Homo sapiens: one gene and its partner. The protein of the gene in region 1 purifies or fractionates together with the protein of each later gene. This does not show direct contact. Each region holds a gene or a part of one and is shown in the gene's direction. Other genes may lie near its edges. The genes, in order: CTSO and DCAF6.

Evidence for each region.
Region 2: the proteins of CTSO (region 1) and DCAF6 purify together in Homo sapiens (affinity purification with mass spectrometry; one large-scale study listed by BioGRID and IntAct). This does not show direct contact.

The regions. Positions count from the first base shown.
Region 1 is NC_000004.12:155,926,564-155,930,017, reverse strand, and holds part of CTSO (cathepsin O preproprotein), read left to right. Parts: intron 1-312; coding exon 313-476; intron 477-1,589; coding exon 1,590-1,682; intron 1,683-3,454. UniProt on the Homo sapiens protein: Proteolytic enzyme possibly involved in normal cellular protein degradation and turnover.
Region 2 is NC_000001.11:168,047,947-168,051,776, forward strand, and holds part of DCAF6 (DDB1- and CUL4-associated factor 6), read left to right. Parts: intron 1-2,945; coding exon 2,946-2,987; intron 2,988-3,830. UniProt on the Homo sapiens protein: Ligand-dependent coactivator of nuclear receptors. Enhance transcriptional activity of the nuclear receptors NR3C1 and AR. May function as a substrate receptor for CUL4-DDB1 E3 ubiquitin-protein ligase complex.

The DNA.
Region 1 (3,454 bases):
GCTTTCTACTTCCTGCTGTCTTAAATATGTGTTAAATGGCTGGAGTCCCAGCAACCATCTTGGACCATGAATGGACCCTGAAAATGGAAACCTTTGAATAGCAGGACAATGATAGAGAAAGAGCTTGGGTTCCTGATATCCTGAAACCCTATCCCAGCCATAGACTACCAGTCTCTCAGACTTAGCTTCCATTGTTTAGGTCCTTTGTAACTGCAACCAAACCTACTCAGAATCATACACAGATTATATAGATCATTGTTATTTTTACCTTAAAAACTAAATTTTCTAACCAAATATTTCCTCTTTTGGTAGTGACCAAGAAGATGAAATGGCAAAAGCACTTCTTACCTTTGGCCCTTTGGTAGTCATAGTAGATGCAGTGAGCTGGCAAGATTATCTGGGAGGCATTATACAGCATCACTGCTCTAGTGGAGAAGCAAATCATGCAGTTCTCATAACTGGGTTTGATAAAACAGGTAAGTGCTGATAAGACTCAGTTGACTGCTTTCCAGCATGGACACTGAGTGCAAAATGATCACCATACTGTAGAACATTGAAATTTGGTTCTGCTATGATTAAGTCCTCATAAGACCTTCACAACTTCTCAACAATCTTATAGGAGTAAATGTGCCGAGACCAGCTCAGTTGTGGAGACCCTAACCCAGCGGCGCTAGAGGAATTAAAGACACACACACAGAAATATAGAGTGTGGAGTGGGAAATCAGGGGTCTCACAGCCTTCAGAGCTGAGAGCCCCGAACAGAGCTTTACCCACATATTTATTGACAGCAAGCCAGGGATAAGCATTGTTTCTATAGATTATAGATTGACTAAAAGTATTCCTTATGGGAAATAAAGGGATGGGCCGAAATAAAGGGATAGGTCTGACTAGTTGTCTGCAGCAGGAGCATGTCCTTAAGGCACAAGATTGCTGATGTTATTGTTTGTGGCTTAAGAACGCCTTTAAGCAGTTTTCTGCCCAGGGTTCGGCCAGGTGTTCCTTGCCCTAATTCCGGTAAACCCACAACCTTCCAGCGTGGGCGTCATGGCCATCACGAACATGTCACAGTGCTGCAGAGATTTTGCTTATGGCCAGTTTTGGGACCAGTTTATGGCCGGATTTGGGGGGCCTGTTCCCAATGTAAATGTCTTGTCAGATTCCACCTGTCAATTTTTGAGTGGATATCCTGTTAAAATGATGATAATTTTTGTTGATATAAAACTGTATCGGGAACATTTAGAATAATTGTTGGGAAAAGGTAAGTGCATATTATTTTATCATACGTATCTAAAAGTTCTTTTTTCTTTTTCTGATTCCTTGGAAATTAGTGTTTGTTTTCATTTTATGCAGTCCCTGTATAAAGGGAAGTGAATTCAAACATATATTTCTACTGATTGGAGAGTGTCCGTAAGTACTGCTCAGGTTTACTTAGTTAAAATAAAGTAGTTTAAGTTACCATTAAATTACATTTTTAATCTTCTTCTCAGAGCTACTATCCTTAGCAAGAATCCAACTTAAAATAAAGAAACTTAAACATTCATAACAAATTTGAGTTTTCAGGATTTGTTACTATTTATGTTTCACTGTAGGAAGCACTCCATATTGGATTGTGCGGAATTCCTGGGGAAGTTCTTGGGGAGTAGATGGTTATGCCCATGTCAAAATGGGAAGTAATGTTTGTGGTAAGTCATGAGTTTGTGTTTAAAACCTCAATATAAATATTAAGGAGATTATTTGAATATTTTAGAGTTACAATCTACTCAAACCACTTTAGCAGTAATAATTTTTGTCCTTTAACCAAATGATAAAAAAAAAAGTGTTTTGCAAGAGGAACTGTTAAACATATTAGTATTTGAAAAAGGAAGAGGGACCTTAGTAAAAAATATATATTACATATATATCTCAAAACATAAGATAAAGTAATAATTTACCAAGGTTAATTGCTTTAAAAATGAGATAAACACACAGCTTAGGAGACTGGACTCCTGCAGAAATGTCTTCTTGTTCCAAATTTACATTTCATAACTATAAATTTTTCTTAATTTCTGTATTATAATATCTGCTCAATGATTATCAAGAGTTTTTCTTTGTTTTAAAATATACGAAAACTAAGCATTAGTATTGTTTGTGATTTAATATGCCCCTTGCCACCTACAAAATTCTAGCAAAACACCCACTAGAATTGAGAGGCTTAGGCAAATACCAAACATGCTTTTTTATTGAGTGACAACTTTTTTTTTTTTGAGATAGAGTCTCGCTCTGTCTCCCAGGCTGGAGTGCAGTGGCATGATCTCGGCTCACTGCAAGCTCCGCCTCCCGGGTTCACACTCTTCTCCTGCCTCAGCCTCCTGAGTAGCTGGGACTACAGACTCCCGCCACCACACCTGGCTGATTTTTTGTTTTTGTATTTTTAGTAGAGACGAGGTTTCACCGTGTTAGCCAGGATGGTCTCAATCTCCTGACCTCGTGATCTGCCCTCCTTGGCCTCCCAAAGTGCTGGGATTACAGGCGTGAGCCACCACGCCCAGCCTGAAACACAACTTTTTAAATGAACCACCAACCAAACTAAAATAGCTAGTTAAGAATTTTAACCGTGTTATAAAACTATATTCAAACCTATATTCTAAAACTTTTGGTCTAGAAATCAACATATTTTCTGAATCAAGCTAGACCCAAACTAAGTTACATATTAGAGCAATCATGTCATTTCTTATTATAATTTGTTCCAACATATATACAATTTTTTTAAATGCAGAATCTTTCAGATTATGAGACTGATTAAATAGTTACAGAAAAATTTGAAAGTTTATGTTCAATGACTATTAACCAATCATTCCATAAGGCAGAATCCATGAGAGTTCATGAGTGATCTGTTCTATCACCCTGATGAGACAGTTTTTATAAGTTATTCATTGAAAAAAGTCAACATCACAGAAATATATTGGCCAGAATACTAGCAACCCCATCAGGCCTCCACTTTTCAGCATCACTGGGGACTCGTACATCTTTGGAACTTGCAGATAAATGACTGATGCTAATCATTAACCCTTGCTGCTGAACATATATTATGTCCGACTGCAGCAGTGGTGGATCCTGGATTTGGGCTGAGGGGTGACTGCTTTCAAATCTCTTACAGGAGTGTTAAAATAACATAATTCAAATATTGGTTCATAATTGCCTCAATTATAACTACGTCCCTCACCACAACCTTTCTCCATCCCTCAGCTACTAAGGGTGAGTGGAGATAATTTCTGCTCTCTACCTGCTTTCATAATGTAAATCTTTAAGGGCATGCCTGGTTGGTAATCATACAGGGATTCAAATTCTTCCTGAAAGTGAGTATTCCCTGAAAGTTACAATGATGTCATATTACTCTTATGAGCAATGGCATAAGGCAGATAGTATTTCATAGCTGCAAGAGATTTCGAAGATACGGTTAGTTATAATAAAAACC
Region 2 (3,830 bases), on another chromosome or scaffold:
TCTGCACCTTTCTAAGGGCTCTTCATCATTGACACTCCTGCCAGTTTATCTTACTTCTCAATTTAGCTGACTTTTATTCTAAAGAGAGAAAGTTTAAGAGATTTTGCTTCTTAAGAACATGAAAAGAATCACTTACCAGCTTGTAATTAGTCCTATGATTTTGGAGAGTTTCTGTTTCCCAAGAGACTAAGGGTTGTGAAGCTCTGTTGTAACAATCATACCATTTGGTTCCTAGAGTCCAAGGATACATTGCACACATGGATGAAATGCCCACCTAAAAGGATGTATGTCTTAAAGTTCCCTCCATGCTGCCATTTGCAAAGCCCAGTCAATATTAGTTTAGCTGGGGTAGAGAAGTGGTCCTAAAATTAAATATTATACAAGTGTATACTTAATTTGATCTGTACTTTATATGAAGAACTATATAGTGGACCTCATCAGTTTTTGTTCCAAATTTAATTTTTAAAAGGAAACTTTAAAAGGCTTTATAGCTAAGTCATTTCTGACAAATTTACTGAAAATATCAGAACAGTTCCTTGCAATACAGAGTAATGATTTTTAAAAAAATATTTACATTCTTATAATTTGGTTAAATAAATGACCCAGGTTTTCACTTTTGGGCTGAGATCAAGCATGAGAAGGAAATGTCTTAGAAAATGAAGACCTTAACAACTAACATAGATATTTTTAAATGGAATGCTCTTCTCATTAACTACAGCAAGTCTATGTAAATGTAACTGGGAGTCTATAGCAGAGCAGCAGACTTACTCCTAAAGAGCCATATAGTAAATATTTTGGCTTTGTTGGCCAGGAGACAAAATGGAGACCATTATGGTAGGTACTTATATGACCATTTAAAATATTAACATTTAAAAATGTAAAAACTATTCTTAGCCTAAGGTTCATTTCAAAAATCGGCATTTGGCGGAGATCTAGCCCAAGAGCCATAGCTTGCAAATACCTGCTCTATAGTAATCAGTGTTATAGAGAGAAATCAAACTATAGTCTGTGGTAAAATGCCTCTACTGGCAAAAATCCAGACTTTGAAACAATGAAATAATATGAATCTCCACATATTTGGGTTCCCTTTAACTTTGCGTAAGGCAAGAACATGGAACAGTAAATGGGAAATAAATTGAAAAAAGACAGAAAGAAATGTTTGTTCTCTAATCATGGTGTTTAAAAAAATAAAATTAGTCCTAATGTCAAAAATAAGTCTGACTTAGGAAAAAAGCAAAACAAAGCAAAAAAATAGTATGTGTATCTTTTAGTGATTTTATATACTGTATTTATTTCATTTTGTTTTATTTTTTTGAGACAGGGTCTTGCCCTGTTGCCCAGGCTGGAGTGCAGTGGTATGATCATAGCTCACTGCAACCTCATACTCCTGGGCTCAAGCGATCTTCCTCCCTCAGTCTCCCAAGTAGCTGGGATTACAGGTGCATGTTGCTGCACTCTGCTAATTTGTTGTTGTTGTTGTTGTTGTTTTTTTTTTTTTTTTTTTTTAGAAGAGACAGTCTCACTATGTTGACCAGGCTGGTCTTGAACTCCTGGCCTCAAGCCTCAGCCTCCCAAAGTGCTGGGGGACTATAGGCGTGAGCCACCGCGCCTGGCCATATACTGGGTTAAGAAACGTAAATATATGCCCTTGGAATGAAAAGAGTGTGGTTGAGATCTCTGTTTAGATAATCTGCATATAATTTTTTTTTTTTTTTTTTTTTTTTTTGGAGACGGAGTCTCGCTCCCTCACCCAGGCTGGAGTGCAGTGGGGCAATCTTGGCTCACTGCAAGCTCTGCCTCCCAGGTTCACGCCATTCTCCTGCCTCAGCCTCCCAAGTAGCTGGGACTACAGGCGCCTGCCACCACGCCCAGCTAATTTTTTGTATTTTTAGTAGATACGGGGTTTCACCGTGTTAGCCAGGATGATCTCGATCTCCTGACCTCGTGATCCGCCTGCCTCAGCCTCCCAAAGTGCTGGGATTACCGGCATGAGCCACCGCACCCAGGCTGTATAATTTTTTTTTTTTTTTACAATGCCAAATCTGTTGTAAGTGATTTGACGGCCTGATTGGTAGCTCTTACTGTTTCTAAACTCAAGAGAAAACCTAAATTACTCTCTGAAAAAAAAAAACAAGCATCTAAGAAAGCTTCCTGAATAAGTCCTCACATAGTCTTGAATAGTTTTTAATTATAGCCTCAGTTAGGATGATCTAACAATTTTTTCCCTAAAGAGTGATTTATCCTATATTGCCCTTTAATAACTTTTAAAGTGTTATTTTCATAGAAATTTGGTTCCATATACCTACTCTGGACCATGGAGCATAGCCCTCACTTTTAAAGCCAAAATTCCTTGTACTGTAAATTTGGCAGCATTTATTCAGTCATCATTGTAACCATGATTTCCTTATTTCTCATTATTGCAGTTTACTCTTTATTAAAGAAAATTGCAGAGAGAAAAGATGTACTCAAAGAGAAAGAACTGGACTCCTAGGGAGTTAAAAGCCCTGTTATTCTTTGCTCATTTGTTATATAGTCTTGTGGTTAGGCCAAGTGAATTAGCTTAGGGCTTAATTATTTATTTTCCAAAGAGCTCCTCAGCTTTGAGGAGCATGTACGTGTTCCAGAGGATGGTATTCATTATAAGCCAGTGCAGTTTCCCATACTGTGACAGGATTGGGTTCTGATTTATTTAAAAGATAAAAGGGATTAAGTGCAATGTCTTCCTTCTATTCTAGCTTCAATGAGTGTTTCTGTTTCCTTAATTTCTTCATATACATTTAGTTGACTGACATATTCCTTGCTTAATGCCCGAAGTCACAAAGGGAAACAAAAGTTTTTTTTTAAATTGAGATGATTGATGATAAAAAGGGTGTCCTTAATGCTTTAAATATTTGGTTCTTTGAAGTCTTTGTAAGTGATTTCAGTTATTGTGTTCCCTTCACTAGATTTAATATCAGAGGAACAACAATAGGTGATAGAATAATGAGGTAATTCAGTATGTTCCTTCATAATTTTTTTTTTATGATGGATTTGCCAGGTCTTCTTTTGCCACAGCTAACCACCTTTCCTATTAACAGTTAATACTCCCTTTGGACTTACTGAATTCTAAGTGCTAAGCATTGTAAAGCAGGTCGCTTTCCACAAACTATATTTAGCTGCATGCACTGCATGGGGATAGAATGAAAAGAAATTTCCTGTGTGCAGACTGATGTTCACTTCAAATATGTCATATGGCAAAGTAACTATAATCTGAAATGATGTACTTTAAGTATCAGTTACTCTTTTTGGATATTTTGTTGAAGAATGCAATTTATGTTTTTTAAATTTGATTGGGATAACAATTACCAACTTTTTGTTATTCGTATATGCTCCTTTTCCTTGAGCTCAATAACTAAAAATGTACTTGAATCTAAATCTGTGTATAGGTTTCTGATTTTTGCAAGAAAGTTGTTTCCTTATAAATAGTTTAGAAATAGTGTCACATATCAAGATGATATATAAGCCTCAAGCACTTCTCTATTTGGGACATATTTTTGAGTAGATCTTTAAAGTGAACCTCAATGACATCAGTCACCTACTGAAAACCTGTTTTGCTGACAAAATCAACCTTGTACTTAACTCTAGAGGCATATATCTGTTATTTACCATCAGTTTCTAAAACAGTTGAACATGAAACATATAGCAACAATCAGAAATGTAAAGTTTGTAGAGTTCCTAATGAAAAATACAGAAGTCATGAAATAAGCCAAAAAATATAATAGATGTATGGAAATTTCTGGTTATGGTTCATTGTCAGGAGGATTCTCATCTACAAGTCTCAAATTTGTTTT